Linked DNA regions of Homo sapiens. The protein of the gene in region 1 interacts with the protein of each later gene in a pairwise test. Each region holds a gene or a part of one and is shown on either strand. Other genes may lie near its edges. The genes, in order: ALDH1A1 and DBH.

What was found.
Region 2: the proteins of ALDH1A1 (region 1) and DBH interact in binary tests that used the Homo sapiens proteins (3 or more experiments, as listed by UniProt).

The regions. Positions count from the first base shown.
Region 1 is NC_000009.12:72,944,678-72,960,782, reverse strand, and holds the start of ALDH1A1 (aldehyde dehydrogenase 1A1), read left to right. Parts: upstream 1-7,729; 5' UTR 7,730-7,782; coding exon 7,783-7,848; intron 7,849-16,105. UniProt on the Homo sapiens protein: Cytosolic dehydrogenase that catalyzes the irreversible oxidation of a wide range of aldehydes to their corresponding carboxylic acid.
Region 2 is NC_000009.12:133,623,326-133,639,486, forward strand, and holds the start of DBH (dopamine beta-hydroxylase precursor), read left to right. Parts: upstream 1-13,037; 5' UTR 13,038-13,046; coding exon 13,047-13,385; intron 13,386-16,161. UniProt on the Homo sapiens protein: Catalyzes the hydroxylation of dopamine to noradrenaline (also known as norepinephrine), and is thus vital for regulation of these neurotransmitters.

The DNA.
Region 1 (16,105 bases):
TGTTGGAGTGCAGTTATTCTCAAAGTTGAGCATGAATCAGAATCACCTGGAGGGCTTGTTACACCACAAATTGCTGAGCCCCACCCGAGAGTTTCTGATTCAGTAGGTCTAAGATGGGGTCAGACACTGCATTTCTAAAAGATTGCCAGTGGATGTAGTTGTTGCTCCAACTTTGAGAACCTTTACTACTCAGCTTCATGGTTGCATTATGAGGAAATGGAACCCAGAGCTGCTCCAATGATTCTGACAGCTGACCACACATTAGAATTACCTAAGGCACTTTAAACGCACTTGGGCTCAAACTACTCCTACAGAGTCAGAATCTTTTATTTTTTGTTTGTTTGTTTTGAATTCCCCAGGTGATTTTAATGTGTAGCAGAGAGGCTAAAACTATTCTTCAGGTCTTCTGACAGTTTAAGAAGTTAAAATCTGGGGTTTAAAATGTTTCTAATTTGTACAGTATTGCACAGTCCACATAAAACAAATATGCTGGCTCTCAGGTTTGCAAACCCAGCAACATGATGAGGTGTGGCATTTAGCTTAGTTATCTGACCAGCAGTTGAAATGCAAAGCCAGGGCCTGGAAGATAAATTTGGATTGTGGTCATAGATCTGGATATGTATGTATAACTTTAAAATGTGAAAACAAATTCAAGCAAGCAAATGCAAACCAAAAGTTTTATATTCTCCAAATATAATAATTACTTTAAAAAGCAAAAGCTTTCACAGAAATCGTTATTTATTGCATAATACGTTTGCAATATAATAAAGATTTATAATGCAACCAAAACTGGAAGGTTTTTAAAATGTAACTCTTTCTTCCTCTCTCACCATATAACATACTTGCTCCTTTGCTTCTGCGATGAGTAAAAGCTTTCTGAGGCTTCAACAGAAGCAGAGCAGACGCTGGTGCCATGCTTGTTCAGCCTGCAGAATTGTCAGCCAAATAAACCTCTTTAAAAGAAAATTATAACTTATCTAGTCTCAGGTATTTCTTTAAAGCAACATAAAATGCATTAACATCAAAAATTAGTACCAAGGAGTGAGGCATTTCTATAAAGATACTTGAAAATGTGAGCAGCTTTGGAACTGGGTAACAGGAAGACATTCGAAGAGTTTGTTGGGGAGGGGGTACTCGGAAGAGGACAGAAAGATGAGAGAAAGTTTGGAACCTCTTGGAAACTGGTTAAGTGATTGTGACCAAAACGCTGATAGAAATATGGACAGTGAAGACCAGGCTGATGAGGTCTCAGATGGAAATAAGGAATTTATTGGAAACTGGAGCAAAGGTTACCTTTGTTATGCCCTAGCAAAGAACCTGGCTGCATTGTGTCCATGCTGTAGGGATTTATGGAAGTTTAAACTTAAGTGTAATGACTTAGAATCTGGCAGGAAAAAATTTCTAAGCAGCAAAGCACTGAAGATGTGGCATGGCTGCTTCTAACAACCTATGATCAGATTTAGGAGCAAAGGAAAAACTTAAAGTTGTAACTTATAATTAAAAGCAAAGCAGAGTGTAAAAATTCAGAAAATTTTCAGCCTGAACATGTGGTAGAGAAGGAAAGAGCATTTTCGGGAGAAGAATCCACCAGCTGGAGGAAAAACCACTTGCTAGAGAGATTTGCATAACTAAAAGGGAGCCAAGTGCTAATATTCAAGACAAGGAGAGAAAGGCCTCAAAGCCATTTCAAAGCCCTCCCACCACAGACCCAGAGGCTTAGGAAGGAAGAGTGGTTCTCGGGGTCAGATTCAGAGCCCTGCTGCCCTACACTACCTTGGGACATTGCTCCCCATACCAGGCCTCTCTGGCTCTAGCCTTGGCTCAAAAGGCTTTAGACACTGCTCTGGCCACTGCTTCAGAGGATGAAACCATAAGGCTTGGCAGCTTCCATGCAATGTTAAGTCTGCAGGTATTCAGACTGGTGCCCAGGCAGGAACCTGATGCAGGGGCAGAGCTCCCACATAGGACTTCTACTAGAGAAGTGCTAAGTGGAAATGGGGTTAGAGCCCCAAACAGAGTCCTCACCAGGGCATTGCCTAGTGGAGCTGTAGGAATGGGGCCACTGCCCTCTAGGCCCAGAATGGGAGCGCCGCCAGCAGCCTGTACTCTGAGCCTGGAAATGCTGCAGGCATTCACTCCAGCCCTTGCAAACAGCCATGTGGGTTGTGCCCAGCAAAGCCATGGGGACAGGGCTACCAGAGGCCTCAGGACCACATTTCTCACACCAGAATGCTGAGCATGGAGTCAAGGATTACGCTGGAGCTTTAAGGTTTAACAACTACCCTGATGGATTTTGAACTTGTGTAGGTCCCATTGCCCCTTTCTTTTGGCCAATTTCTCCCTTTTGGAATGGGAATGTTTACCAAGTGCCTGTACTACCATTGTATATTGGAAGTAAACAACTTGTTTATTATTTTACAGACTCACAGGTAAAAGAAACTTGCCTTGAGTCTCAGATGAGGCTTGAGACTTCGAACTTTTGAGTTGATGCTGGAACAAGCTAGGATTCTGGAGGACTATTGAAAAGGAATGATGTATTTTGCCATGTGAGAAGAACATGAGATTTGGGGGAACTGGGGCAGAATAATATATTTTGGATGTTTTTCCCCCACAAATCTTATGTTGAAATGTAATCTCCAGTGCTGAAGGTGGGGTCTAGTGGGAGGTGTTTGTGTCATGCAGGTGGATCTCTCATGAATGACTTGGTGCTCTCCCCACGGTAATAAATTTACAGGAGAGCTGGTTATAAGAAGAGCCTGACACATTTCCCCCTCTCTCTTGCTCCCTCTCTCTCCATGTGACATATATGCTCCCCCTTTGCCTTCTGCCATGAGTAAAAGCTTCCGGAGGCTTCACCAGAAGCTGAGCAGATGCTGGTGCCATGCTTGTACAGCCTACAGAAACATGAGCCAAATAAACCTCTTTCTCATCTTTACTCTCTCTATATATACACATACATATATATACATAAATATATATGTATATAAAATATATAAAACACCTGATGAGTTTTTCATTGTAAGGTACAGATAGAAAGCTTACCTTTATTTAAATTAGAATATTTAGATAGTAACAATAAACCTGAATGACACAAAGAATGACGGGTGCATGATCAATGACAACATATACATTTTGACACCTATGAACTTGAACTTTTATTGATTAGTGCATTAGTTTCCAATGGCTGCTGTAACAGTTATAAACTTGGCGGTTTAAAACAACACTTTTAGAAGCCAGAGATCTGAAATCAGTTTCACTGGCCAATATCAAAGGAGTGGACAGGTCAGGCTCTCTCCAGAGATTCTAGGAAAGAATCCATTGTCTTATGTTTTCCAGTTTATAGAGCTTTATTCTTTAATTATTTGTCTTCTGGTCCCCTTCAATAGCTTCAAAATATTGATTCATTGCCAGGGCAGGGGTGGTAAGAAAAGTTGTTTATATGAAAATTAAACTGAATATATTACAAACAATATCATCAAATTTCTAAACACATTGTTGGATAATCTGCATGAGAATTATAAAAAAAAAAAAAAGAAAAAATTGTGGAAATCTCAAAGTAGTCTACATTTTGATTGACTCATTGATGTCTTTCATGTCTTTCTTTCTACACATTAAGGAAGCAAACTGGAAACTAGACAAAACACTATGAGTACTATTTATGCAAGATTATTTCAAATTCCAAGCAGCAAATCCAGTTCCAAGAAATGGCCTCAACCCATAAGGTTTAGCAAAAACCTATTTAAACTCAAATAATTATCTTACAGAGGCTTTAATGTACTGTTTCTTTTAGTGACCTTACTAATCAGTTAGTGTCCTGGTTAGACCAGATTAGAGGGGCATCTATCCTATCTCAGTAACACAAGCCAAAGAGAAGAACAATGAAAAGATATGTAAAGAGCAGGAGAAATCAGAGGTGAGGAAATTTTTCCAATTGAAGAAGAATGGCATGTGAACAGAAATTAGTCAACAAATACATATGTTCATATACTTGAATTCTGCCTTCCACTTCCATTTTTAACATCAACTTGTCAACTAAGTACAGACTCTCTCACTACATACAAGATCCACTTTTCCCAAATTATTAAAACTCAAATAAGCATAAGAGCAATGTGGTATCTGATAAAAATGTAGTAATCAAAAGCATAGGGATAGATTTCTTGCTAGGTTTACCAACAGGCAGACATGCTAAGGCAACAGAGAATAGTTAGGGGAGTGGTCATGTAACTGGAGTAGGAGAGGTTCATCTTCAATAAATGGTTCCAGCATCTTGAAATCAGGAAATATGAAAAGAAACTGTCTTAGTTCATTCAGGCTGCTATAACAAAAATTAATTTCTCACAGTTCTGGAAGCTTGAAGTCTGAAATTAGGGTGCCAACATAGTTGGGTTCTGGTGAGAGCCCTCTTTTGGGTTACAGATTGCCAATGTCTCATTGCATCCACACATGGCAGAAACAGCGAGAGATCTCTCTGGAGTCCCTTTTATAAAAGCACTGATCCATTCATGAGGGTCCTACCCTCATAACCTCATTACCTCCTAATATGATTTGGCTCTGTGTTCCCACCCAAATCTCACCTTGAATTGTAGTTCCCATAATCCCCACATGTCATGGGAGGGATCCGGTGGGATGTACTTTAATCATGGAGGGGGGTTACCGTCATCCTGTTCTCATGATAATAAGTGAATTCTCATGAGATCTGATGGTTTTATAAGGGGGTTTTCCCCCTTTTGCTGAGCACTTCTCCTTGCTGCCACCATGTGAAGAAGGACGTGTTTGCTTCCCCTTCCACTGTGATTGTAAGTTTCCTAAGGCCTCCCCAGCCATGCTGAACTGTGAGTCAATTAAACCTCTTTCCTTTATAAATTACCCAGTCTCAAGTATGTCTTTATTAGTAGCATGGGAATGGACTAATACACCTCCCAAAGGCTCCATCTCCTAATACCATCACATGGGGGGTTAGGATTTCAACATATCCATTGTGACTGGACAAAAAAAATTCAGTCCATTGCAGAAGCTATTTTTAATTCATCATATGACTTTTTTCAACATTTTTTTAAAAATTTTAAGTCCTGGGTGGCAGATTAGGTTCCTTTTATCTTTTCAGGAACTGAGGATTGGACGGAGTTCTGGAGATGTTTGTTGTAAAATGAAAGAGTAGTTTCAAGAATGGTTGAAGTCATAATCTATATGTTTCTTGGTATAATGAAAGCTTTCACAAATGGCTGGAGAAGTCAAATTCAAGAGATGAATAAACTATCCTCTTATGTTTCTTGCTTCTCTCTCCATATGTGTGTGTGCCTGTGTGTGTGTGTGTGTGTGATTTAGTTTGTTCATAAGGAGGAAAAAGAAGATGAAACATCATTTGTCGATTACTCTCAAGTTAAAGGGACAGCTCCTCCTCTGCTGCATAGTCCTGGCATACCATAAAAACGTACAATCCTGGGTCCAGTTCTAAAATGTGCAACCTTGGTCCCTAGGTTCTCACAAAAGCCATTATTTCCTCTGTAAGGAATAGAAGTAGTCTGATGAAATCTTTTCCTCATATGCAGCAATTCCCAGAAATATGCTATTCTACAAAATAAGCTCTCAGGGCAGGATGATGTTTACCTCAAAAATATAGGTCTCAGGCCCTGTGGTTTCTAGGCAGAAAAGATCTGCTTAAGTGAGGTTAGGGCTAAAGAATTATGGATGCATAAATGATACTTAGTAAATATTTGCTGAAATTAAATGGGCAGGTGTGGTAACCTGTCTCCAAAGCAACTCCTTTTGCCTACATTCAGGAATGCCTGGTATAAAGGGACTGTTCTTACATAATTATCCAATAAAATACAATTGAGAATGATCATATAAGAAGTGAGATGACAAGCCAAGTATGTTATGAAGCCTTGAGCTTTCATCGCCTGGACATCAAATAAACCAGTATTTGAATCCACAAACAACTGTGACTCTGGGAGAAGAAAGCAGCAAAACACAGCTGTTTGGGCATGGCCAGAGCGCCACTCTCAAGTTATGTAACAGCTGTTGTGTAATTGTGCATTTAACTCAAAACACATTTTTGAGAGAGAAAACAATTAGACTTTCCAAAAAGAAAGAAACAGAGAAATGTTGAAAGAACACAGAAGTTTCTATCTGGTCATCAAACATAAGACACGGGGGAGTCAAAGGCATTGGGAATGATATTGCCTTAGAATCTAGGGAGTTGGCCCGTGCACCAAATCTGGCCTGCCTTCTGTCTTTTTAAATAAAGTTCTATAGGAAAACAACTACACCCATTAATTTACCTATCATCTACAGTTTCTTTTAAATAGAGTCAAGTAAATTATATCAGAAACCATCCAGCCCAGAGGCTGAAAATATTTACAGAAAAAGTTTTGCAAATTCTTGTCTTAGATGAATAAAAAGTTATGTTTAAATGCCTGTAAGGGTGACTATTCACTGAGAAAACCAAAGCAGTTGATGCTTGAACCCATGTAGGAGTTCTCTTGTGGAGAATAGGGTAGAAATAGTAAACAGAAATAAGAGTCCAGGTTTGGGAGTCAGACTGGCCTGAAATGAAATTCTGGTCCTGCACTAATAGATCTGTGACCATAAGTAAGCTACTCACCCTCTGTATGTCTCTAAAATGGGGATATGAAATGAGGGTAGAAAGGGAAACAAGTGCTGCACCTGATTTGGGCAAACAATTCAGAAATTTTTAGTTTCCCTATGTAAGTCCCATATTCAGGGGAATTGGCAAGTTTCACTAGAAAAAAAAAAATTGGTTGATTCTCCACAATCAGAGCATCCAGAGTATTTTATCTTGTTCCTATTGTAACGTTTGCTAGAGCTACAATACAATAAAGTATTGTACTTAAAATGGGAGTAACACTGTTTAAAAAATTGTCCTTCAGCTAAATATTAATTTAAGAACTTGAATTGTTTGGAAGCCCTGCTTAAATTTAGTCTTTGTACACTGCCTATGTTGATAAATACAGACAACTTCCAAAACCAGGATTACTTTCATTTTAAATGAGTATTAATAGATGATATTGCCATATTTCTAATTGTGGTGATTGTGTGTGACAGTGTGTTCCGAATTCCCTAAAAGTCCTGCTGGCTTTTCTGTTCACATATAGAAAATAAAGATAATTTAGGGCTTCTGAGATCACAGTAGGTCTACTTACCCAGCACTGAAAATACACAAGACTGATACGATATTTTAAAACTAACTTAGGGTAGGGTGTAGATAAAGGGCCTTTCTTCCCCAAACAGCACCTTGATTTTCTGGGAGATGGACTGATTTCCTGAAAGCCTTGTCCTGAAGACACCTGGCCAGCTTCTACTGAGAACAAGTGCCCTTTTAGACTCTTTTCAATCCTCAAATTCTCTGATTCCAAGTCTGTCAGAGAACAGAAAGTTACATAGTAGCATTAAAAAGCATGAGAAGTCAAAAAAATAATAACTGGCCTTAGTGGCCAGAGCAGCTGCTGCATACACTTATCACAGGTTTCGGCTTTGTAAATTAATTCATCTGCAAATAGTGCACTGTCTCCAGGTACAAATTCGATGCTGGAGCACTGGTTTCTTAAGGATTTAAGTTTAAAGTCAAAGGCTTCCTGCCCTAGGTGTTACAAATAAGTAGTGTCGTTTTCTTTTTTTGCTCTGAGTTTGTTCATCCAATCGTATCCGAGTATGCAAATAAACTTTAGCCCGTGCAGATAAAAAAGGAACAAATAAAGCCAAGTGCTCTATCAGAACCAAATTGCTGAGCCAGTCACCTGTGTTCCAGGAGCCGAATCAGAAATGTCATCCTCAGGCACGCCAGACTTACCTGTCCTACTCACCGATTTGAAGATTCAATATACTAAGGTGAGTAAAACTTCTATTTTCTGCTTTGACTCGGGTTTGCAAAAACTGCATTTATGTAAAGCATTAAAGGTCAATTTAAGTAAACTTGTGTAAAGAGCCCTTTGCAAATATAAAAATAAAAGGCATGCAAAATGCAGGTCTCAGTTTAGTGTCCTGATCAAATATGATCTAAATCATATCAGACAATCTTTCATAAATTTATTTCTTAAAATATTTCCAAGCGAAAGGAATTCTCTTCTGTGTGAAAGGATTCTTATACCAGGATTCAGAGGACTTTACTAAGCACTTCTATTAACTTCACTATAGCCGGCATGTATGATAAGAGAGCAAAATACTCACTAGAGAAGCTTACTGGAAAGAACCAAACGAGTAGGAACAATAGAAAGCAAACAAGGAGAAAGAGAGCATACTGAAATAACATAACTTTCCAATATGTTTAATAAAATGAGTGTTAAAATAGGGGGACTTAAGTCTGATAATTGGATTCGAAAATCTTCAGATGGACTTGCATTATTTTGCATATTTTGGTGGGAGGAAGAAAAGCATTATTTCTTCAGCCAAGTTTGTTGCCATTGGAGCAGATGTGTAATTGTTAACTGATAAATATTTAGAGAAACAAGAGCAGGAGCTAGATCCAGACTTTAAAATCCGCAGCTGGGGGGAACTAGGAAATGGATCCTGCTTGAGTCGTTCTGAGAGTAACTCTGAACTTTGCCTGTTTCACACTGCTTTCCTGTCAGATCCTAGAACTCCAAAACAAACAAATGAATAAAACACAATCTAACCAAAATTACTTGAAGTTATCTTTATGGTGTGATGCAGAAAGTATGGTAAGAAATTAACTCTTGCAAATCAAGAGAGAGCCATTTTGCTGTCTGAATTAGCCAACAGAAAAACAAAGGGCATTATAATTTAATGATAAAGTAAAAGTCCCCACTGTTATATATTTATTTCCTCACTTGTAACCATGGATGGCTTTGAAATCCCAAGGTCTGTTGCATTTTCATTTTCATAAAGCACAACAAATGAGGAAGTTGCTCAGCTGATTGGCTCTTTTCCTCAGGAAAGTAGCAGCAGAGATCAGATTGTGCCTTTAACATGGTTGACCAGCAGCTATGAAGTGTATTTTAAGGTATTGTTATCACGAGGTTTTGTTAAAGAGGAAAGATTTTTTCCATTTAGTTTTACTACAAATGGTAGCATGAAAAATGCAGTAAATCCATACCGTCAAACAATTTACATTTGGCAAAGGTATGTCCAAAAGGTTGCAAGAGTCCAGTCTCCCTCATTTTCTTATTCCAAGTTTGTCATTCACAAGAAATTTCAATTGAAAGTGGGTACATTTAAAAATACATTTCATGAAGCTCAAAATTGTCGACAATGCTCAGATTATTGTATTACTATTATTAATGGGATTTTTTTTTTAATAATACTACCTAGGAAGATATTTTGGTAGTCTGGATGCCCCTGTCTCCCCACTCCTTTGGCTTTGCAGAAGTTTGCAAAGTCTTCCTTGTGTGTGTATTTCAAGGAAGCTCTAATGTAAATAACCTTCCTGCTAAATTAAGCTTCACTTAGTAGTCATTAACTAAGCATGTAAGAAGCGGTACTAGACAAATGAGATGGTCCTAAAAATCTAACATACAAGCACAGACCTAATGAACCCTTAACACAGAGAGATGATTTTGAGATTGAAACCTATTCACTTCGAAGTCACTGTGCAACAACTCCCCTCTAGGGAAAGTGACTGACCTAAGTGTCCAAAAGAAGGCAAGACTCAAAGAGCAGGCGTTTTGCTCTGTGTTTAAGAACTTTTCTGGGTAAAAATACTCCAAACAAGTCAGTGAATTTTGATTTCTCGTGCATCTTCTATATAAATCTGTTCTGCTCAGATAGCATTTTATTGTTTAATTTATTGGTTACAGCGTTTTCACACTTGGGAGGACGCCAGTTATGTATGTAATTAAATCTAAATGGGTGAACTTTTTCAAATGCCTTCGCATTTTTTGTTTACTATGTCCCAGTGAAGAATTGGATTGAATTTGCTCTTGCAAGAGGAGTTAAAAAAAAAAATGATGGTTATTAACTATAAAAAGTTCCCTGGTTACAAACCAAGTAAGCAAGGAGTTTATAGTGTCTGAGGAATTATCTTCTATTACCAGCCCCTAAAGTCTTGTGTTATTTTTCTGTTACTATTCTAATGTCCTTTTTTATTATTATTATAGCTAGAAGTATATTGGTTGTTAGGACAAGTTGGAGAGAACAGACAGGGTTGAGTAAAAAAAAAAATATTACAACTACGATAGAAAAGCTACATACTCTCAAGCTTGGGACTGCTTTTCACCCAAACAAAAGAATTTATTGATGCATATGTTTTTATGACTTATTTTCTAGTACAGTCTGATTATTTCTTTGTTGGGGTAGATTAAAGAGAGATCAGAGTTTAAGAAATGCTTTCTAAAATTATACAAAAGCTTTTGGAATTTAAAACCTCAAAAACATCGCTATAAATTCACTAATATGAACTCATATCCCATCCTTATCCTCATTACTCCTCTTTCCAACTCTAAATGAACCCCACATTTTCCATTTTATTGAGCCTTTAAATGAAGAGATTCTTTGAAAGTTATGTGATCATTGGGCAAGCTACATTACTTCTCTCTGCCTCGGTTTTCTTATGTTTAAAATGGGGATGATAAAGGCACGTATTTTCTAAGGTCGATGAAAGTATTAAACGAACTTAATGCGTACAAAGCCCTTGAAATAATGCCTGGACATGGGAAATGATTTAACGTTAGTGATCCTAGTCCTATTTTTCTGAATCCTTTCCAGTTTTTCCAGAATATTCCCTTTTACCCAACCTTTCCTAGACCTGTTTCCTACAAGTATGCCTCACGTCTTCTCCTAGCTTTTCTGTCACTCTTTTTTGTACAGTCATGTCCCATCTGACAAAGATTGCATCAGAGTGAAGTTCCAAGGGTCTTCCAAGATTTCAGGGATCAAAAATTTTCTCCTACAGGATTCGGTAACTTTGTTTGCCATTCTCTCTTCACAATACTGTTGTTTTACCTTTTCTTTTTTCTTTTTTTTTTTTTATAAAAGGGAAATAGGAAATTCAAGAAGACAAGCATTCTCAGACAGAATTCAAACGCCAAAATGTTTAACTTAATTAGTAAGCTTCACTTATTAAACCATGGTTTGTTCATGCTACAAAAGACCTTCATCAGCTAATGACATTTTACTCATACATACACACACACACACACACACGCACACACACACACACAATAAATAATTATAGGTAAAATTTATTGTGCTTACTCTGCCATGACTGTTTAAGTTCTTGACAATGATTTTATTTACTCCTCATAATAACCCTATGAGGAGGTTACTATTCCTGTTTCACAGTTCAGGGAACTGAGGAACAGAGCGGCTATGTAACTTACTAAAGTTACACAGCAAGTAAGTGACAAAGCTACACTGCCAATGCTGGCAGTTTGAGCTAACACACTAGCAAGAGACTTGTCTAAGGTCAATTCCACTACTCTGGGACACTGACTTGCCAGAATCCTCTTGTATCCTTCTTCATCCTGACTTTCATTTGCCCATTGCTGATTACCATGGTCTTTCCAGCTGCTGCTCAGCTGTTCCCAGGCCAATAAGAGAAAGTTTGCAGCCAACTTAGAAAAAGAGAACAATAGGGAAATTGAAAGGAAATAGGTTTTCTGCTTTGACTGAAAATGTGACGTTTGGGCTAGGAGAGGCTATGAGGCAGAGGACTTTGACATGGATGTGAAATGTCTGTGTGAACTACATTTCTTCAACTCCTATGGAATCGATTTTGGTTAGAGTAGGAGATTGCTTTCCTAGATTTCTGGTTTTGTTTAACCCTTCTGGGTTAAAGAGATATTTTCAATGGAGAAGAGTTATGAATCATTGAATAATACGTCCCAGGCACGATTTGAAGTGCTTCTTTTCCCCCATGATTATCTCTTTAAATTCTTACAACAAACAAATTCAGCTACATGAACTTCCAAATACCTCCTTTGTCCCCTTTGCTTGTTTCTCCCTTTTGCTTTTCGTTTCTCCCATATTTCCCTTCCTCTTATTTAACAAGGCCTTGAATGAGTGCCCTATGCTAGTTCTCATGATATAAGAGGGCTAATATGATTCACGTCTCATGCAGCCTCTGTTCCTGGAAGGTGTGTGGAATAGTGTGGGGCAGAAAATAAGAGAATGCTTTAATCAGAAATTAGGATAAATGTTTAAAGCAAAATAACTGAAAGCTGAGAGGATATGAGTAGAAGAGCTTTTGATGAGGATTTTTGGGAAGGTGCTTTAAAGGTAAGCCTGAGGGATGTAGAGAATAAGGTGGCCAAGAGTAGGGAAGAACAAAGATCCAGAGGTCTTACCACATGCAAAGACCCCGAGGACAAGAGCATGTTATGCTCAAAGAACTATCCAAAGGCTAATCTGGCTGGAGTAAAGTGAATAAGGGAGAGAATGGATGAGATGAAACTGAAGTACAGGCTGGGGCCAGATCGGCTGGCGGATTTTGAGGAAGATCACTGAGAGGTGCTTAAAACAGGAAAGGACTTATGTTCAACGCAAAGCTGATTGTGCTGTGATGCTGCTTTCACTTGGGAAATGTTTTTAACTTCCTTCCAACTGAAGCAATATTTTGTTTGCTTTGGGCTTGGAAGCAGGTGAAAAAAATAGCTGACTGGCTGCAAGGTGCAGTGACTGAACAAGCTAAACCTGGCTTCAATTTCCAGCTATTCTATGTATTTAATTATATGACCTTGGCCAAGCTTCTCATCCCCTGGAGCTTCAGTTCCTCTGTCTGTGAATTGGGAATGAGAATGACTACCTTGGAAAGTGGCTGTGAGAATTAAGTGAGGTAATTTGTGGAATGTGGCTGGCACTTATTAACTACTTAGTCCTTTCTCTCCTTGATTCTCTTTCCCAAGATGACTCCTAGAATTATATGATCATTCTGTTCTCAATGTAAGTTATATTTATATTGCTTATCACAGCTCAAAACTGATTTCATATATTTCTCTCATTTGAGGTGCATCATTAACCACTGAGAGGAGCTAGAAAAGATGTTAGCAGAGTCCCATTTCAAAGCTGAGGAGCCCGAGCTCAGAGATCATGACTGACTTAAGGTCACATAGCTCTTAAAATGCAAAAGTAGAATAAACTGGATTCTAAATCTTTTTATCTTGGATCTGATGCTTTCCCACATGATATCCTTTTTTCCTTAAATATCAAAACCAGTAGTACTAGAATCTCACTCAAGAAAACCTAATCAAGAAAAAAATCTGAAGTAAATAACACATATCCTAAGAGAAGAGGGTATTATCCCCCTTTCCCAATTAGCTCTAACAACTGTTTTCACACCTATTACTGCATTTTTATCATTCATTCCTTACTGTGGTTGAAAGAATAGATCTAGGCTGAAGTCTGAGATTCTGTGTTCTTAACAGTCTTTCAGCTTTTGCTGATGCTACCAAAATGTCTGTTGACCAGCAGCAAGGGTCTAAAAGTTTTAGGTGAGTGAGCCTTATAACTTCAATGCAGCAACCACCTTCCAGTTACTTCACAATAGAGCTTCCAGTTTCTTCCAGAAACTAGCACTCAGCCACATCAGAAACTTTCCTTTCAGAAAGTGCCAGAGCTAAGCAGAAACATGATGATGGCTACAAACCAGTGACAGAACCAATCATTGATTTTAATAGTGGGAGATAATCATTTACTAATATTTAGAATGCTCATCTCTGAGGACTGCTGTCTTGGCAAGTTGTTTTGTTTTCTGGCACCTGCCTGACTGTAAGAAAATGGAATTAACAATTCTAAAGTAAAGAACACATGTCCTAAGAGAGGGTATTGTCCCCATTTCATAAGGGCTCTCAGTACAACTCTTTATATAACTTTGTAACAGGGACTTTAACCTATTGAATTTGTCACTACATACTTGCCAGAATGAGGGAAACACTCTTAGAGAATATGAAAAATAACTCATTTGAAGACCAACCCAAAGTAAAGGTAATGACTCTGAAATGGCATGGATAATCTATAGGATGATATGTTGCAAATCAGCATAAAATAAATCTCACAGAAATACAGACATCAAACAGAGATATCTGAAAATAGCAATTATCTGGCTTGGGATGGTGGTGTGGGGGGGTGCACTTTGGTTTGATTTATCATGATGCTATTATAACTATAGCCAGGGGATATATTATATGTTTACAAAGTGTAAGTGACAACATAGAACCATGTTCAAAAGAATTTGAGCAAGGATTGCTTCACAAACCCTTACTTAGAATCCAATAAATCAGAAAAGTAAATCTGTGTAATACTGGTTTTCCTGACGCTGACATGTTTTGGGTGTATAGATGTATATAGCAAAAGTATCCACAAACTTAGAAGCATTGCTTGAGAAGGATGTGAAGTGTTGCTAATATTGGGTTTTCTGATATTATCTCTACCTGATTCATTGTAACGTTTGACTTACTAATGGAAATTTGTTCACTGGGGAATTTGCACAAATCTCACATCTCTAAAAACTTTGCCTGAACCGTTCCCTCCCCCAACCCTGGTCCCATTTCCACTGACTATTTCCACTGCTCTATCGATACTTTTTTAGATGTCAAAGGAATACAAATAACTACTGAATTATGCTTTATATTTGGCATTCTTTTAGAAGGAAGAGGGCTTACATGCGAGCAATTCTATTACTAGGTCTTGATACTGCTAAAAATGGGCAGAACTTTCTATCGCTTCTACATCTTAACTCTGATACAGAAAATATATGATGTACAGAAGTTGCTGACAAGTTTTGTTATCATCTCTAGGACACAGTGATGGAGTGGCTCAAAACAAATGCTGTGGCATCTTTTCTCTTTCCCTGACACAATTGAAAAGGCTGATGGGGTTTTGCAAACAACAAGAAAAAAGAGTATATACTCACGTTACTAAAGTCAGACTATCATTTAAAACAAATGAAAGGAAAATTTTATTTCTCCTATTTTTTGTTTTCGTCATTCTGTCATTTTGTTTTCATTCATTTGATGACAGTTAAAAATTTTCTTTCCCTTTGTTATTTCCTCCTTAATTTCCTTTTACATTTTCTAACTTTGAGTCTCAACATTTTGCTTTCCTGCCTCAGGGTTAGGGTGCAAAGCAGTTGCCAGAGATCCAGCTTTGATTCTTTTAAATGTTTAACACCCCACCTGACTTTTGTTCAGTCTCTCCTCCTCATTATTCATCTCCGATCTCATACTCCCTGACTCCCAGCGGCCTTTAGTACTTTGGTAGGTTCCTAAGCTGAGAAAAGGTTGACACATTTACAGCACACACCAGTCTCCACAGGTTCACACCACCACCCATGCAGCCTATGCTGTGACTCAGTTCTCAAGTTTGAAAATTCACATGGATGACATTAAATGGGGACTCTCATCACCCTCCCTCTCGTTTGGAAAATCTTAAAAGAAATTCTTTGTGCATTGAAAATGTGATCTCTTAAAATCTCTCTCCCACCAAGAAAGTATTGCCTTCCTTTACAGACTCTAGGGCTGCTGGCCCAGTTGCTGCCCTGCCGAGATAATATTAATTTAAGGCACTCTGAGTATCTTTTGCAAGGAGTCAGGGGCTCCCCACTTTAGCCCACAGACTCCAAAATCTCATATCAGCAGATAAGGCAAATAGGGCTTTATTTTGCCACTAGTCAAAACTAGCTTTATCCAAGCCAGAAATATTTTGAGAAAATTATGCTTATTTATTTAGAACTGTAGATTTATACACAATACATTAAGACATAATAACTTTTACTCTGGAAAGGCAATTTTTTTCACAATTATGACTAATTCTTGGACACCAGTTGAATCCAGGAAATGGCTACTTGTTTATCAAAGGTAAAATGATGCATTTCTTAAAATGTGGCATATCTAAAATCTGAAGTGTAAAAATCCATTTCTAAGTTGCCTCAACATTTCTATTGATTGCTTCCCCATATAGAAAGTACTTGAAGTCCAAGAGTATGCATAGGCATTTATAATTTCCAATCAATATTTCAAACAGAAGGTTGATGTCTACTTTACATATATATTATTCAAAAGTCACCTAAGTCCAAAATTCATAATTAGAATTGAGTTAATATATAATGGTTACATAGAACCCAAGAATATTTTACTTTTATAGTATCATCTCTTTTCCTCTAAGCTGGCTAAAGGCAAAAAACAAATGGAAAATA
Region 2 (16,161 bases), about 61 Mb from region 1:
AATGATGCTTTTGGGTTGAGACTAAAACTTGGATCTGCTTGACATTCTGAGACCACACAACAGAAGATAATCAGGATGCTTGATATGGTTTGGCTCTGTGGCCCCACCCAAATCTCATCTCAAATTGTAATCCCCATAATCCCCGTGTGTCCAGGGTGGGACTTGGTGGGAGGTGACTGGATCATGGGGGCAGTTACCCCATACTGTTCTTGTAATAGTGAGCGAGTTCTCCCAAGATCTTATGGTTTTATAAAGGGCTCTTCCCCCTTCACTTGTTCACTCTCTCTCACCTGCCGACATGTAAGACATGCCTTTGCTTTAGTCTCGCCATCCACCATGATTGTAAGTTTCCTGAGCCCTCTCCAGCCACGTGGAACTGTGAATCAATTAAATCTCTTTCCTTTATAAATTACCCAGTCTCAGGTGTGTCTTTATAGCAGTATGAGAACAGACTAATACAATGCTTAAGCCACAAACATAGTGGAAAACTCCCAGGCCTTTCTCTGAGCTGGGGATATGACATCCTCTCTCTGACTGGAGCCTCCAGTTCACCTGGAGCTCCCCTTTGCCCCTCAAGATGCTGGCCTTGTAGCTCCGGTCTGTACAAATGTGGGAAAGGCTGGTTGATATTTTGGTTAGGCTGGGCGTGGTGGCTCACACCTGTCATCCCAGTGCTTTGGGAGGCTGAGGTGGGAGGATTACTTGAAGCCTGGAGTTTGAGTCAGCCTGAGCAACATAGTGAGACCCTATCTCTATAAAAAAAAAATTTTTGGAAAATTAGCCAGCCACAGTGGCTCACACCTGTCATCCCAGCTACTTGGGAGGCTCAGGCAGGAGGATTGCTTGAGCCCAGGAGGTCGAGGCTGCAGTGAGCTTTGATCACACCATTGTACTCCAGCCCAGACAATGGAGAAAGACTTTGTTTTAATCCATCAATCAGTCAATAGACTCCCTCCTATTCCATATTGACGTACTGTTAATGGCAACAGATGATTTCTGCCAAAGGGGTGACAACATCAACCAGACTAGACAAAGAGATTGGCCCTAGGAATTCCACAAGAGGTGACCATTTACAAGAACCTGGAATGGACCAAGAACTCTTAGCAATGACCACACAGTGACTGTATTAGTCTGTTCTCCCACTGATATAAAGAATTACCTGGAACTGGGTAGTTTATAAAGAATAGAGGTTTAATTGACTCACAGTTCCACAGGTTGTACAGGAGCAATGGCTGAGGAGGCCTCAGGAAACTTACAATCATGGTGGAAGGTGAAGAAGGGGAAGCAGGAACATCTTCATGTGGCAACAGGAGAGAGAGAGTGAAGGAGGTTAGTGCTACACACTTTTAAACAACCAGATCTCATGAGAACTCACTCACTATCATGAGAACAGCAAGGGGGAAATCCACCCCCATGATCCAATCACCTCCCACCAGGTCCCTCCCCTAACACTGAGGATTATAATTCAACATGAGATTTGGGTGGGGGCACAGAGCCAAACCATATAATTCCACCCCTGGCCCCTCCAAAGTCTCATGTCTTTCTCACATTTCAAAACCAATCATGCCTTCCTAACAGTCCCCCAAAGTCTTAACTCATTCCAGCATTAACTTAAATTTCAAGTCCAAAGTCTCATCTGAGACACGTCAAGTCCCTCTGCCTATGAGCCTGTAAAATAAAAAACAAGCTAGCTACTTCCATGATACAATGGGGGTACAGGCATTGGGCAAATGCTCCCATTCCAAAAGGGAGAAATTGACCAAAACAAAGGGGCTATAGGCCCCATACAAGTCCAAAACCCAGCGTGGCAGTCATTAAATCTTAAAGCTCCAAAATAATCTCCTTTGACTCCATGTCTCACATCCAAACAACACTGATGCAAGGGGTGCACTCCCAAGGCTTTGGAATATTTCAATCAATCAATCAGTCAATAGACTCCCTCCTATACCATATTGATGTACTGTTAATGGCAACAGATGATTTCTGCCACAGGGGTGACAACATCAACCAGACTAGACAAAGAGATTGGCACTAGGAATTCCACAAGAGGTGACCATTTATAAGAACCTGGAATGGACCTCCATCCCTGTGATTCTGCAGGGCAAAGCCCCCACAGCTGCTTTCACAGGATGGCATTGAGTGCCTGCAGCTTTTCCAGGTGCATGGTGCAGGCTGTCAGTGGATCTACCATTCTGGGGTCTGGAGGATGATGGCCCCCTTCTCACAGCTCCAGTAGGCAGTGCCCCTGTGGGGAGTCTGTGTGGGGGCTCCAAACCCACAATTCCCCTCTGCACTGCCCTAGGAGAGGGTCTCCATGAGGGCTCTGCTTTTGCAGCAGACTTCTTCCTGGACATCCAGATATTTCCATACATCCTCTGAAATCTAGGCAAAGGTTCCTAAGCCTCAACTCCTGCCTTCTTTGCACCCATAGTCTCAACACCACATGGAAGCCACCAAGGCTTGGGGCTTGCACCCTCTGAAGCAATGGCCAAGTTGTACCTCAGTCCCTTTTAGCCACAGCTGGAACTGGAGCAGCGAGGATGCAGGGCACCACGTCCAGAGGCTGCACAGAGCAGCAGGGCCCTGGGCCTGGCCCACTAAATTATGTTTCCCTCCTAGGCTTCCAGGCCTGTGATGGGAGGGGCTGCCTCAAAGGTTTCTGTAATGCCCTGGAGGCATCTTCCCCATAGTCTTGGCTATTAACATTTGCCTCCTCTTTACCTATGCAAATTTCTGCAACTTTGAATTCTTCCCCAGAAAATGGGTTTTTCTTTTCTACCACATGGTTAGGCTGCAAATTTCCCAAACTTTTATGCTGTGCTTCCCTTTTAAATATAAGTTCCAATTTCAGACCATCTCTTTGTGAACACATATGAGTATATGCTGTTAGAAGCAGCCAGGTTATGTCTTGGATGCTTTGCTGCTTAGAGATTTCTTCCACTAGATACACTAAATCATCTCTCTCAAGTTTAAAGTTCAACAGATCTCTAGAGCAGGGGCACAATGCCACCAGTCTCTTTGCTAAAGCATAGTGAGAGTGACCTTTACTCTAGTTCCCAATAAGTTCCTCATCTCCATCTGAGACCTCATCAGCCCGGCCATCTCTGTCCACATCACTATCAGTATTTTGGTCAAAACCATTCAACAATTCTCTAGGAAGTTCCAAACCTTCCCTCATTTTCCTGCCTTCTTCTGAGCCCTCCAAGCTGTTCCAACCTCTTGCCCATTACCCAGTTCCAAAGTAACTTCCACATTTTTAGATATCTTTATGGCAATGCCCCACTTCTTTGGTACCAATTTTTTGTATTAGTTCATTCTAACACCGCTATAAAGAACTACCTGATACTGGGTAATGTATAAAGAAAAGAGGTTTAATTGACTCACAGTTCCATAGGCTGTAAAGAAAGCATGGTTGAGAAGGCCTCAGGAAGATTACAATCTTGGTGGAAGGTAAAGGGGAGGCAAGCATATCTTCACAGGGTGGCAGGAGAGAGAGAGGAGGGAAGTGCTACATGCTTTTAAACAACCAGATGTTATGAGAACTCACTCACTATCACGAGGACAGTGTGTTAGTCTGTTCTCACGCTGCTAATAAAGACATACCTGAGACTGGGTAGTTTATTTAAAAAAAAAGAGGTTTGATGGATTCACAGTTCCACGTGGCTGGGAGGCCTCACAATCATGGCGGAAGGCAAAGGAGAAGCAAAGTCACATCTTACATGGCGGCAGGCAAGAGAGCATGTGCAGGGGAACTCCCTTTTATAAAACCGTCAGATCTCGTGAGACCTATTCATCATCATGAGAACAGCGTAGGAAAGACCTGCCCCCGTGATTCAATTACCTTCCACCAGTCCCTCCTCCAACAGTGAGAATTACAATTCAACATGAGATTTGGGCAGGAACACAGATCCAAACCATTTCAGTGGCCTTGGCCAACCCACCATGCTGAGACACTTCAAACCCAGACCTGTTCTCCTGGGACCAAACAGGCCTTTGGCAATCCCAGCACTTCCAAGACATCCTGTTGCTCCAGGTATTGACCAGTGCCACCCAGAAAGATATCCTCATCAGCACTGTAGCTCATGCTACCTCCTCACCTCCTACGTGACACAGACCATCTCTGTCCTGGTCATTTTAATTCGCCCTTTCCCCAGGGCCTTATGGGGCCAAGTCTCTCCATAACTTGATCAGCAGAGGGGAAATTGGATCAGGGTGTGCAGATCGTTGCCTGCTTCTTACTTTGTGAATGTCAGAAGCCCCCAGGCACAGAGACCTGCTTGTTTCCAAAGTCTCATCTTTGAAAAGCAGATGGCAAGGCTTAGGCTTGATTGAATTTGTGTTTATGTATGTGATGCATTTGATTGTAGCTGGAGGGAGGCTGCCTGGTCCAATAGCTAATTTGGCCCATCAACAGGGTTTAAACCTACTTACCTGTTAGAAACTATTTGTTCCATGGAGGCAGTTGTGCCTTTGGCTGGTGGCATAACAGCCAGCGTCTGAGCATCCCCCTTGACCAAAGCCTTTTGAACCTGTGGGTTGATTTCAATTAGGGAGCCCAAAGTCCTTGGCTCCACAGCCCGGGCTCTGAGGACTGATGCTATAGAGCCGTGGGTACAAGTGTATGAGGGCCGGCAGACAAAGGCAAGAGTTGCACCGCTGTCACTCATAGTTTAAGAAACAAACGACCCACATATTTATCAACAGGGAGTTGGCTAAATCAATCAGAGACCATGCCTGCAGTGGGATACTTGAGAGCTGTCAAAGGCGGAGGCAGCACTGAGCGTGTATACTCAACATATATCCAACATGCACGTGGAAAACACCAGTGGCAGGACAGTGTGTACAGCAGGCCATTTAACAAACAGTGATGGCTCCTCAAAAATTAAAAGTAGAATTATCACAGGATGCATCAATGCCATTTCTGGGTACACACTCAAAGGAATTCACAACAAGGATTCAAAGAGGTATTTGCACACCCAGCAGCATGATTCACAACAGCTAAAAGATGAAGCAACCCAACTGTCCATCTACTGATGATGGATACATCTAGTGTGATCATTCATACAATAGACTCTTCTCCAGCCTTAAAAGGCAAGGAAGCTCTGACACATGTTACAACCTGGATTCACCTTGAGGATAGTATGCTCAGTGAAATAGACCAGACACAAAGGATAAATCCTGTATGGCTCTATGTCTATGTGGTCTTAGAGTCATCAAAATCATGGAGACAGAAAGTAGAATGGTAGGTGCCCAGGGCTGGGGGAGGGGGAATAGGGAGCTGTTGTTTCATGGGCACAGAACTTCAGTTTTGCAAGATGAAGCGTTCTGAAGACAGATGGTGGTGATGGTTGCACGGTAATAGGAATATGCACTGAAAGCCATTGAACTGCACGCTTACAGTGGTTAAGGCGGGACATTTTACATGATGTGACAAATCAATAATAAACAATTTTAAAAATTTCAGAGAATGAAAAGCTGTTCTGACAGACGACATATTGAGCTGTTAATGGTAGTCGTATTTGAGGGAGTGATTCTGCGCCGTGTTTTTCAGGCTTGTCTGGATGTTTATAATGATAGAGCTCGCCACCGTGGAGGGAGCCCTCACTAAGCACAGATGGTCCAGCCTCTGCCTGCACTGACTCGGGGAGCCCCCAGCCTGAGGAAATGCGAGTGTAATTCTGTCACTGTCCCCATAAGCTGAGGAAACAAGGTACAGAGGTTGAGGAACATGCACCTGCCTCTTTCTGCCTTTGTCTTGATTACTTCTCTGGGATAAGGACCATGTCCCTCCCAGTGAAACTCACCTAAATGTCAAGGGACAGCACTCCTGAGCCTCAGCCTCCACATTGCTTGCCCCCGGGTAGGACCACAGATGCCCCCTCGGCCCTGGGCGCTGAGGCCAGTGGAAGCCCTGCTGAGCCTGCGAGGCTCTGCCCTTCAGCATCTCTGGGATCAGGTTTCCAAGAACACCTGGCCCTGAAATGGGCATGGGGGGTGGGATGAGGGCTGACTGACCACTCAGACCTTGGGGCCCAAGTCCCCTGTTCTCAGCCAAGGCCCAGGGAGTCAGGGCAGGTCCGGGGGTCCTGGGCTGGGTGGCGCCGGTCTCAGCCACATAGGTCTGTGTCCAGTGGGGTGTGGCAGCCGCGAGCTCCAGGGGTTGGTGGTGAAGTGGCCCATAAGCCCTGAGCGGGGGTCTGAGGGCTGGTCGCTGGCATTGTAGCCTTTGCCAGGCAGCTCACTCGAACCCTGCCCGCCCACTCTGAGGCTGCCATAGCCCCCATCTTGAGAGTCAGCAGAGCCTGCATGGAACCGCCCGGGAGGCCCAGGCCAGCCTTCCTCTCCAGACTCCATGGACGCCAGACGCCACGCTCTTCCAGGCCTACCACTCTGCAGCCACCACCCATGACCACGGAGCCCTGGCCAGTGCCACTTGTCTCTAGGCCTCGGCATCCTAAGTTGTGAAATGGTGACAGTCAGGGCCTCCATGTGACTTGGAAGGGTTGGGTGCCCTCACTCACGAGAACGCCCAGTGCCTGCATGCTCGCCTAGGGAAGAGGCAGGTGGGCTGCAGACACGGCTCCTACGAGCCTGTGGACTCAGAGGGCATCTCAGGACTCGGGAGCCCAGACCACAACCTGGTGACAGCTGTCCCACACAGGGCTCCCACTGCACATGGCATGGTGCAAAGGGCATTGACCCTCAATTCTCACCACAACCCCCATCTCCTGGGCCTGCCCAAGGCAACTGGTACCCCACAACTTCCTGCATCTCTGCCCCCCCCTCCCACCCTGGGGTGGGCTTGGCTGTGTGAGTGGACTTGGCCCACCAGCCGGCAGCCCCCATGCTGGGCTCTGATACCCCAGGAGCGTCCTTCTGCCAGTGAGGGATGGGTGTGGGAAGGTGAGGGCCCCGGCTTCTTCACCCTTGATGTGACAGTTTTGGGGTGCATTCCACAGTCTCTCCAGGGTCCCCTTGGAACTGAGTCCCTACTGCCCATGGAGGAAACTGATTATGAAAGTACGGTTCGTGAGTGTTCCCACTCCCCTGCCCACCCGTCTCCGCACACTCTGAGCTCTCCTTCCACACAGCCTGCTCACATCCAGACCCTTGCCTCAGCGTCTGCTTTTGGGAGAACCAAAACCATAACAGGACAAAAAGAAGGGAACACAGTCTCCGACTGCACTTGGGGGTCCCACCAGAGTGTGACGGTGCCAGCAGACACTAGGAGAGGAGGGCGCTTGTATTTCCTGTGGCCACTGTAACAAATGACCAAAAACTCTGAGGCTTAAAACAACACGATTTTTTTTTTTTACAGTTCTGGAGGTCAGAAGCTCTAAAATCAAGGTGTCTGCAGAGCTGGCTCCTTTTGGGGGCTCTGGGAGGGGAATCTGTTCCCACCTTTTCCAGCTACCAGAGGCCTCCACATCCCTTGGCTCATGGCCCCTGCTCCGTCTTGGAAGCAGCCTCCTCTCCTTGGACCCCATCAATGCATCTCCTTCTCTCTCTCGTAGGACCTTTGTGATGACATGGGGTCCACCCAGCCAATCCAAGACCACCTCCCACCTCCGGGTCCTTAATCTAATCACACTGAATGTCCCTTCCCCAGGTAGCCTACCCGACTTGCAGGGATCTGGACGTGGCCATTGGGGGACATCCCTCTGTCTGTCACACCACACGCCAGAAGCTCAGAGAGATTCCAGGGAGGGAGGCGGATTCTCATGTTCTCCGAGACCCTCCTGGGCCAGAGCCCTGCCTGTTGGACCCTGTGATGTCAGTGGGTGCAGCAGCCCCCGAGATGGATGCGGGTGAGGGCAGCCCGGGGCTGTCTCGCTAGCCCTCACTGCATCGGCCCCATTCTGGGTCAATGGTAGGTCAACCTGGTGGATCTCTGAGGTGACCAAGCTTACTGACAGATGAACTACAGCCTCAGGAAGAGGGTCATGGCTGGCAGGAGCCAGCGGGGGGCAAGACCAGCAGCCCTGAGTGCTGGTGCAGGCCACGCAGGGCCCAGCCTCTGTAGCCAGAAGTCAGCGCCAGTGCCGGTCCTGAGCAAGATGGCCATTTCACAGATGAGGAAAGAAGGCTCAGGGCTGTGGGGACTGTCCGGGTGGGTCACATGGCCGGCAGGTTTCAGGGCCTCTCTTTCCATCTGGTGCCCACAGTTACGCTGTGGCTTGGGTGTGGTCTGGAGCTACTGCCTCAGGACCCACCACCATCCTGGCAGTGTGGTCCCTTCAGAAAAGCTGAAAATGCAAAAATCAGGCACATGCACCTCCCCCCATGAGCTGCTCAAGAGAGAGGAGCAGTCACGCATCCTTATGGAGAAAAGGAGAAGCAGGACCCAGAAAGGGTTTCCCTGTAAGATTCCTCAGGGCCCAGCAGGCCTCAGCCCCAAGATTGAGGCCAAATTATTGGAGGGGTGTGTGTGTGTGTGTGTGTGTGTAAAACTGAGTATGTGAGCATGAGCCCAGAGCTGGGGGTGCAGGCCACGCAGGTGTGAGAGTCCACCTCCCCATCTCGCTGACCCCTGTGTATGGAGGAGAGATGGAGGCGGGGGAGGCTGTGTCCTGCCCAGGCCAGCCGCCTGCCAGTGACAGTGGAGGACTTGCTCACAGTGGGGCTGCTTGGGGTCACACAGGAGTGGCCTGGCAGGCCTGGCAGCCCCAGCCCTGGAGCCAGCCACAGACTCCTGGGTTCTGCTTCCCTGGGAGCTTCCAGGGGAGTGTCACTGGGGCTCACGATACCGACCCCTTCTGGGATCAGTGGCCCCTTGCTTTTGGCACAGAGCTTCAGGGCCAGAGGGTGCCTCTAATCCAGTAGCTGAGGAAAGCTTTCAGTGGTGCTCTGGGCACCTCTGTGACCTGCCCTGGGCCCAGTCCTCATGCTGATCCCACTGTAGCCACCCTACTCAGTGCCCCAGGCCCTGGACACCTCAGGCCATGGGATATCCCAAGCATTCAAACTCTCACGGCCACCTACGCTTATGAGCAGAGGCAGAGGCATGGTGCCACCGCTGCCTCCTCAGGCAGGATATGCTTTTTGTTTGTTTGTTTTGAGACAGGGTTGTTCGCTGTCATTCAGGCTGGAGTGCAGTGGTGTAGTCAGGGCTCATTGCAGCCTCAAACTCCTGGGCTCAAGCGATCCTCCCGCCTCAGCCTCCCGAGTAGCTGGGACTACAGTCTTGTGCCACTATGCCTGGCTAATTTGTTTTTATTTTTATTTTGGTAGAGACTGGGTCATGCTATGTTCCCCAGGCTGGTCTCGAACTCCTGGGTTCAAGCAATCCTCCCGTCTTTGCCTCCTAAAGTCCTGGGATTATAGAGGTATGAGTCACTGTGCCCAGCCCAGAATGTGCCTCTTAACTTTCATACCGCAGCCCCTATGCTCAGGACGAGGAGGGACATAGGCCAGCTGCCCCAAGTTCCCCAAGGGGACTGTGCCACCCTGGAGTGGGCTCTGTGATGGACAGAGTCACCGTCTCCCAGCAGCTCCCAATCCATCCCATCACAAGTCAGGTCTAGGCACTGCCATCAGACTGATAGTTGAATTTTTCCTGCCAAGAGGAGGTCCCTAAGAGCCTGAGCCACAGGCGAGGGACAGTGCTGTCCTGTGGCCAGGCCCCGTTGTCACTGGGGAGTGGCCTGGCCTGTTCACTCACCCAGCTCCAGTCTGCACCACCGTCGCTCCACTTGGGGTTGTCACTGCCTGAGGTTAGGACGTCAGCAGAAGCCAGCCTCATGTGGCAGAGGCGATGGGGAATTACAGCCTGCAAAGGCTGATGGCATCAGAGAGATTCAGGAAAGCAAAGGGCTTATTAAAAAGCTGAAATTGGTTCTAAACAAGGTCAGCCGTCGATGCGCCTTGGAGGGAAGCCAGGCGCTGAGCAGCAGGAATGGGGCTTATTTCCTGACACCGTGGCCGTGACACCCTGCACCTCCCCGGCCTACCCCACCCCCAACCCCACTCCCACCCCCATTCCCATCCCCACCCCCACCGCCACCTCTGGAGGGCAACGTGCACCCAGACACTGGAGCAGAGGCAGCAGGGGTGGGAGCAGGGAGGAAAGCCCCCCGCGGGGCACCACAGGGAGGCATGTGGCCAAGAGAGCACCTGGCAAGCAGGTGTCACCTCTGAGGAGGGTGAGGGCAGGAGGAGAGCTGACTGTTGCTTCCTTACCCTGGGGTCGGATTGCTCCCTTTTAAAATCCATTAATGCAAGGAAGGGCGCAGCCACGGGGCCATCCGATTGGATTCGCTCCCTCCCGCCCGGCCCCAGTCTCCGCAGATTTTCTCTGCGGTTGCATTTTTCATTTGAGCGTCCCTTCCTCTTGACTCCAGTGGAATTTTTCTGACCTTGGCTGACAAGGTGTGCAGCCCCCTCCAGCTCAGGGCACCCTCTTTGGGGTGCTTGCCCCAGGCACTGGCCCACCCTGTGAGCTCAGGCGCATTGTCTCGCCTCTCCGAGGCTGACTCTCCTGTGTCTGAGACAGGGATGATCGCACACCCAGCCACCCAAGGCTGGCCAGGATGGAGGCAGGGCAGGGGAAGCCCTGGTGCGGCCTGACTTGTGTCTCCTGTCCCTCCCTAGGACTTAGTTATCAGTATTTTGGAATCAGCTGAATCATTTCTGTCAAATGCTAGAGGAAAGCCAGTTTTGAGTTGGATAAAGAAAATGTCTTTGATTCCTGTTAAAAATAAACATGTGTGCATAACACTGCTGAGCACGAGACCGCACCTGCCGTCCCTCCTTAGAGCTCCCAGCAGCTGTTGGTCTTTGGCGTATCCGGGAGAGGAGCGAGGCCTGGAGGTGTGTTGAGCCGTCCAAGGGCTGGTAGCATCAGGGGCTCTTCACTGCCTCTCGCTCCACAGAACCGCTGGGTTGAAGGAAGCTGGAGGGATCAATTGTCCTTGTCATCCAACTTCCTGTGTCTGTAGATGGGGAGGAGGCGCTGGGTTGGAAAGCGCTTCTCTGAGGACGCCAGCTGCGCATTCAGGAGGGCGGAGCAGGATATGACCCCAGAGCTCTGACCCCGGAGGAGCAGGAGGGGTGCCTGGGGCCTCAATACCCCAGAGGGGAGAGAGGTGCCCCCCTTCCCACAACGCGGGCCCCAGCTGGTGCTCGTTTAGCCTGTTGTCTAGCTGGAGCCACCTGGGTGGCCACCAGGCTGCTGGGAGGGCTCACCCCTGAGCTGGGTGTGCTGTGGAGCCCGTGACCCTCACCTCTGCCTCTGCTGGCTTTTGTTATCCCGTGCTGGGAACACCAGTGCCTGCCCACCCCGGAGGCTCTTCGTATCACCGGCTCGCTGTGGCCGCTCCCCAGTCCCGAGAGTGAATGTCCGGGATGCAGCAGACACCTGCTTACAAGGCACAGGTGAGGAGGTTTTGGAACTAATCTGAGGCATGAAGGTGAGGTGCTCTCAGGCGACGGAGGTGGCATGTCCTGATGGGAAAGCCAGGCCTTCGGAGGCTGAGACCCTTCCCAAGGCTCACCAGAGAACTCCCAAGAGTGTCTTTCCCCTGGCCTGGGAGACAATTTCACACCAATGCCACACTCTATTGCACAGGTGATTATGCACTTGGACCTCACCTGCCTGGGCTGTGGGTGGGGGCGAACGGTGCCCCTCTGGGTGCAATCAGTGGGGAGGGGCTCATGGCCTGAGCTTGGCTTTGCAGGATGGCCTGGCCACTGTGGGGCAGAGAGCACTGCCTGCGAGGGCCAGGGGAAGGCTGGCACTTTCTCCAAATTTCACGTTCGTGCAAAGACACAGTCATTCCTTTCTACAGCGTAGAGCTCAGAGCTGAAGCAGCCTCCAGACCTGCTGTCATGGGTATTTAAGGACCTAAATGTTGCTGTCAGCCTATGACATGAATGTGCCCCTAAGGCTAGATTCTGGGTTTCTCCAGAGAGACGAGAAACAGGAGGGAAAAGGAAGGAAGGGAGGGAGGAGGCTGGGGAGGAGGGACAGCTTCTAGTCCAGCTGGAGAGATCTGTCAACCCAGCCTGGGGGGTGGAGCTGGAGGGATCAAGCAGAATGTCCTGAAGGCAGCTGCCCTCAGTCTACTTGTGGGAGAGGACAGGAGGGAGAGGTGCCGTGGTGAGACTGACCCTCGGGCCCACGGGTGGATGATGGCAAAGGTCCTGTGGCAGGTGTGGGAGAAGCAGGGCTGCGGCCAGCTGCCCTGAGAGGCTTCAAATTCAGGCCAGATCTGCTCTGGGCAAGAGGAAGCTGTGGGTTTGGGAGCTTCAGAGACAGGGGAGCAGGCCTGTCACTCACCCTCTTTTCCTTAAAGGCTGTCACCCCCAGCAGTGCACCCTGCAGCCTGCCTATCCCCTGTGCAGCTCCAGCTCCGTCTGTCCCCAGCAATGCACCCCACGCCCATGTCCCCCACTCCCTATGATGCTCTCGCGCCTTCTGGAGCAGCAGTGGTACCAGCTGGAGGCTGTGGAAAAATTGAGAGGAGACAAAAGTGGGAAGAGCAGGCCGTGGAGAGAGTGTCTAAACACAGGGACTATTTGGAGATTGTCTTATTTTTGGTTTGAAATGGGCCCACCTGCTAGTATTGTACAAACGGCTCTGCTCGCTAGGCCAGGCCTGCAGTGGCTACGGGCCTATCCTTCACTGGTCAGCCTGGAGCAGCTCCTCGGACCTCAGTCTGCTCATCCGTGGGTAGAGGCGACGCAGACCCCATCCCACTGGGGACTGGGCCAGACAGCCTGTGAGGCAGTCAGCTGGTGCCTGGCCAGAGGGTGTCTGAAAGGCCTCTTGGCTGCAGGGTGCATCTGCTTTTGGGACAGCTCTTCAGAGCCATCTCAGAAGGGACAGCATCCGCCTGTCTACTTCAACTCCCACTGATGACGTCCATGTGTCATTAGTGCCAATTAGAGGAGGGCAGCAGGCTGAGTGCTTGGCCTGGGGCGCAAGCTTGTGGGAGGGAAAATTGGATTCCCCGCTAGACAAATGTGATTACCCGTGCTGCCTGGACCCACCCCATTCAGGACCAGGGCATAAATGGCCAGGTGGGACCAGAGAGCTCACCCCAGCCATGCCCGCCCTCAGTCGCTGGGCCAGCCTGCCCGGCCCCAGCATGCGGGAGGCAGCCTTCATGTACAGCACAGCAGTGGCCATCTTCCTGGTCATCCTGGTGGCCGCACTGCAGGGCTCGGCTCCCCGTGAGAGCCCCCTCCCCTATCACATCCCCCTGGACCCGGAGGGGTCCCTGGAGCTCTCATGGAATGTCAGCTACACCCAGGAGGCCATCCATTTCCAGCTCCTGGTGCGGAGGCTCAAGGCTGGCGTCCTGTTTGGGATGTCCGACCGTGGCGAGCTTGAGAACGCAGATCTCGTGGTGCTCTGGACCGATGGGGACACTGCCTATTTTGCGGTGAGTCTCTCCTCCCTGCCAGCTCTCCAAACCCTTCCTGACCCGGCACCCCATCTGGCCGTCTTTCTGCACTCACCCTCCTTAACCCAGAAAGTTCTTCTGTCACCTGTCAGTGTTTGAGTTGACTCTGCTCTGAGCCAAGTCTGCACCCCGAGCTTGGGCATCATGGGGATCTCAGTTTGAGGACAAAATAGGAAAGACATGCTTTCCATGGTCCTTGACTGCCCGCCCCAAATCATGGGACCCAGTAATCCCAAGGAATGGAACTATACACAGAGGACGCACACACCACACACACTCGTGCCGCTCCACACCCCACACGCGCATGAGCACAGACCCCACGACCCTCGGCCCTGTAAACAATGCCTAGTACCACGTCCCCAGAGCACACATGCCCACTGATGTGGGCCAGGTGGTGGCGCGTGGCTGGGCACAGCATGAGGCCTGCACACCCATGGGATCCAGCCTGACCTACTGTGCTTGTACCCGTGGACCAACTGAGCAGGTGCAGACACCCTGCCCCTACCCATAGGTGTTGAACAAGCCCCACAGGGCTCAGCCAAAACTGTTAGGATGGGCTCTTGACTCCTTTCCGTCCAAATTTACCTCCACTCTTGTTTCACAGGGTGGAGAAAGGGGAAAAGTTTCCCTTCAAACTGGAGGGGACTTTAGGCCCTTCCACAAGCTGCAGGGGGTCCCCGAAGTGGGCGAGCCCACCGCCTACAATGGGTCCTGCTCCAGCCTTCCTTTCCACATGGGACTGGCCACCAGGGCTTCTTTGTGGATGAAACCCAACTCTCTCCACAGAAACACACAAAGGAGTGACAAAAAAGTTTTATTTCTGAAGTCAGGAGGTGCCTGCTTTATCTGGGAGTGCCGAGCTGGAGCGGGGGAGCTGTGTCTGTGCGGAGCGGCCGGCTCCAGCTCTGCATCTTGGTCTCACCATGGGCTGGTGGGGCGGAGAGTCCCTCTCTGCCTTTTTGGGTGTTGTGAATTCATGAGGGCAGATGGTGGCTGCTGTTTCTGGAGCTGAGCTTGCCCCCTCCAATTCCCAAGACTCGGCCAGGAGGCACTTGCCTGTGTCGCTAGTGAGGCTTAGGGCCACCCAGGTAGGGTGAGTGGAGCTGCCTGGGAAGGGCCCTGCTCTGACCCATAGGGCTGCACAGATTCCTGTGCACAAAGACACTCTGTGGCTCAGGTTCCAGCCAAGAAAGACCTGGGACAGCCCTGATTCTGAGCCGTCAGCCGTCTGGAGGAGCAGCTGAACCCCATCGCTGACAGTTTGGGGTTCTTCGCAAGCCTCTGCCATGAGGCACCCTGAGTGCAGGAGCATTTGCTCCTCTCTGGGGCAGCGTCCCCCCTGCCTGCATTTCCCGGCTGCTAGGGAAGCCAGAGGAAGCCAGGTGACTTTGCCTTTCCGTGCACTGGCAAGGTTAATTTGCACAACAAATTCCTACGAAAGCAAATGTCAGCCTTATTATTCCTCCCTAAGCAATATGTTCAACTAATATCTTCTTGATTTCCAGCTGAAATATCACAGGCGAACTTTCTGCCTCTGTTTAAAATGAGTCTCTCGGCAAACCAGCGGTGTCCCCAGCGGGGTTGCATTGTGTGGCTTTTTTCTCTAGGGAAAGTTTTGCAGTATCTTTTGCAGATTTCTTTTTTCTCAAGGAAATGAAGAAAAGATGTTTTACCCTGAATGTAAGATTAAAAAGAAACACAACCCAAAGTCCTTAAGGCCAAGGGCCCGAGGCTTTCTTGGGGTTTCCATGGGAAAGGCCAGGCAGGGCAGGGAAGCAGCTTCGTTTGGACAATTCTGGTGGGCTCTGGGTGGCTGGGGTGGTCTCTAGTTGCCTGGTTCCTGGCCCTAGGGTGTTTTAGGGTTGGGGCAATATTGGCCTGGGGTGTGAGAGTCAGGTGGAGGAGGTAGCTAGGGATATGGGCTTGGTGTGGGTCGGAATGTTAGGAATATGATTCTCACACACGTGTGAATGTTGGAGGGCAGGACAGGTGTAAACAACTCTGACCATCTGTTTGAGCCTTCAATCAATTAATAGATGCCAAATAGACAAATATGGAATCTAAGAAGGGCCCTTCTTGAGTACGAAGGGCAGCCTGCTTGTTGGGGAAGGCTCCTCGCTGTCTCTCAGTGGGTCTCCCTGGTGGTCTTCCATGTGACCTGGCCTCGGGCCACCGTGTCCCTGCCCCTTAGGGCCCAGTGCAAGGGGAGCGGCCGGAGACGGGGAGGGCAGAGGTCACTGATCCAGATCCCAGGAAGCATCCTCGGAGAATGCAGCAGGTCCAATGCCTCCCTGGGCCTCAGTTTACCTTCTCCAAGCAGGGCTGGGACTAAGGTGAGGGGAACAATGCCTAGGCTGCAGGGTTTAAAGTGGTGCTTCAGGCTGGGTGTGGTGGCTCATGCCTGTAATTCCAGCACTTTGGGAGGGCAAGGCAGGAGGACCGCTTGAGGCCAGGAGTTCAGGACCAGCCTAGGCAACATAGCGAGACCCTATCTCAAAAAAAAAAAAAAAAAAATCCAAAATTACATGTATTTATAAAGTAATAAAGCAGTGCTTGTTCTCAGGGTTGTGCCAGTGCAGGGTGGGCACCTGCTATCAATCACCATCTTAGATGTGGCACCCTGGTTTCTCTCTCCTTTCCTGTTCATGTCCCACCCTGTTCCCAACTCTCCCCTTTCTGAGGCTCCGCAACTCTCCTGCCTGCATGAATGTGGGCAGCATTGGTCTGAGGCATTGTTCCCAGTCTTGAGGAGGCC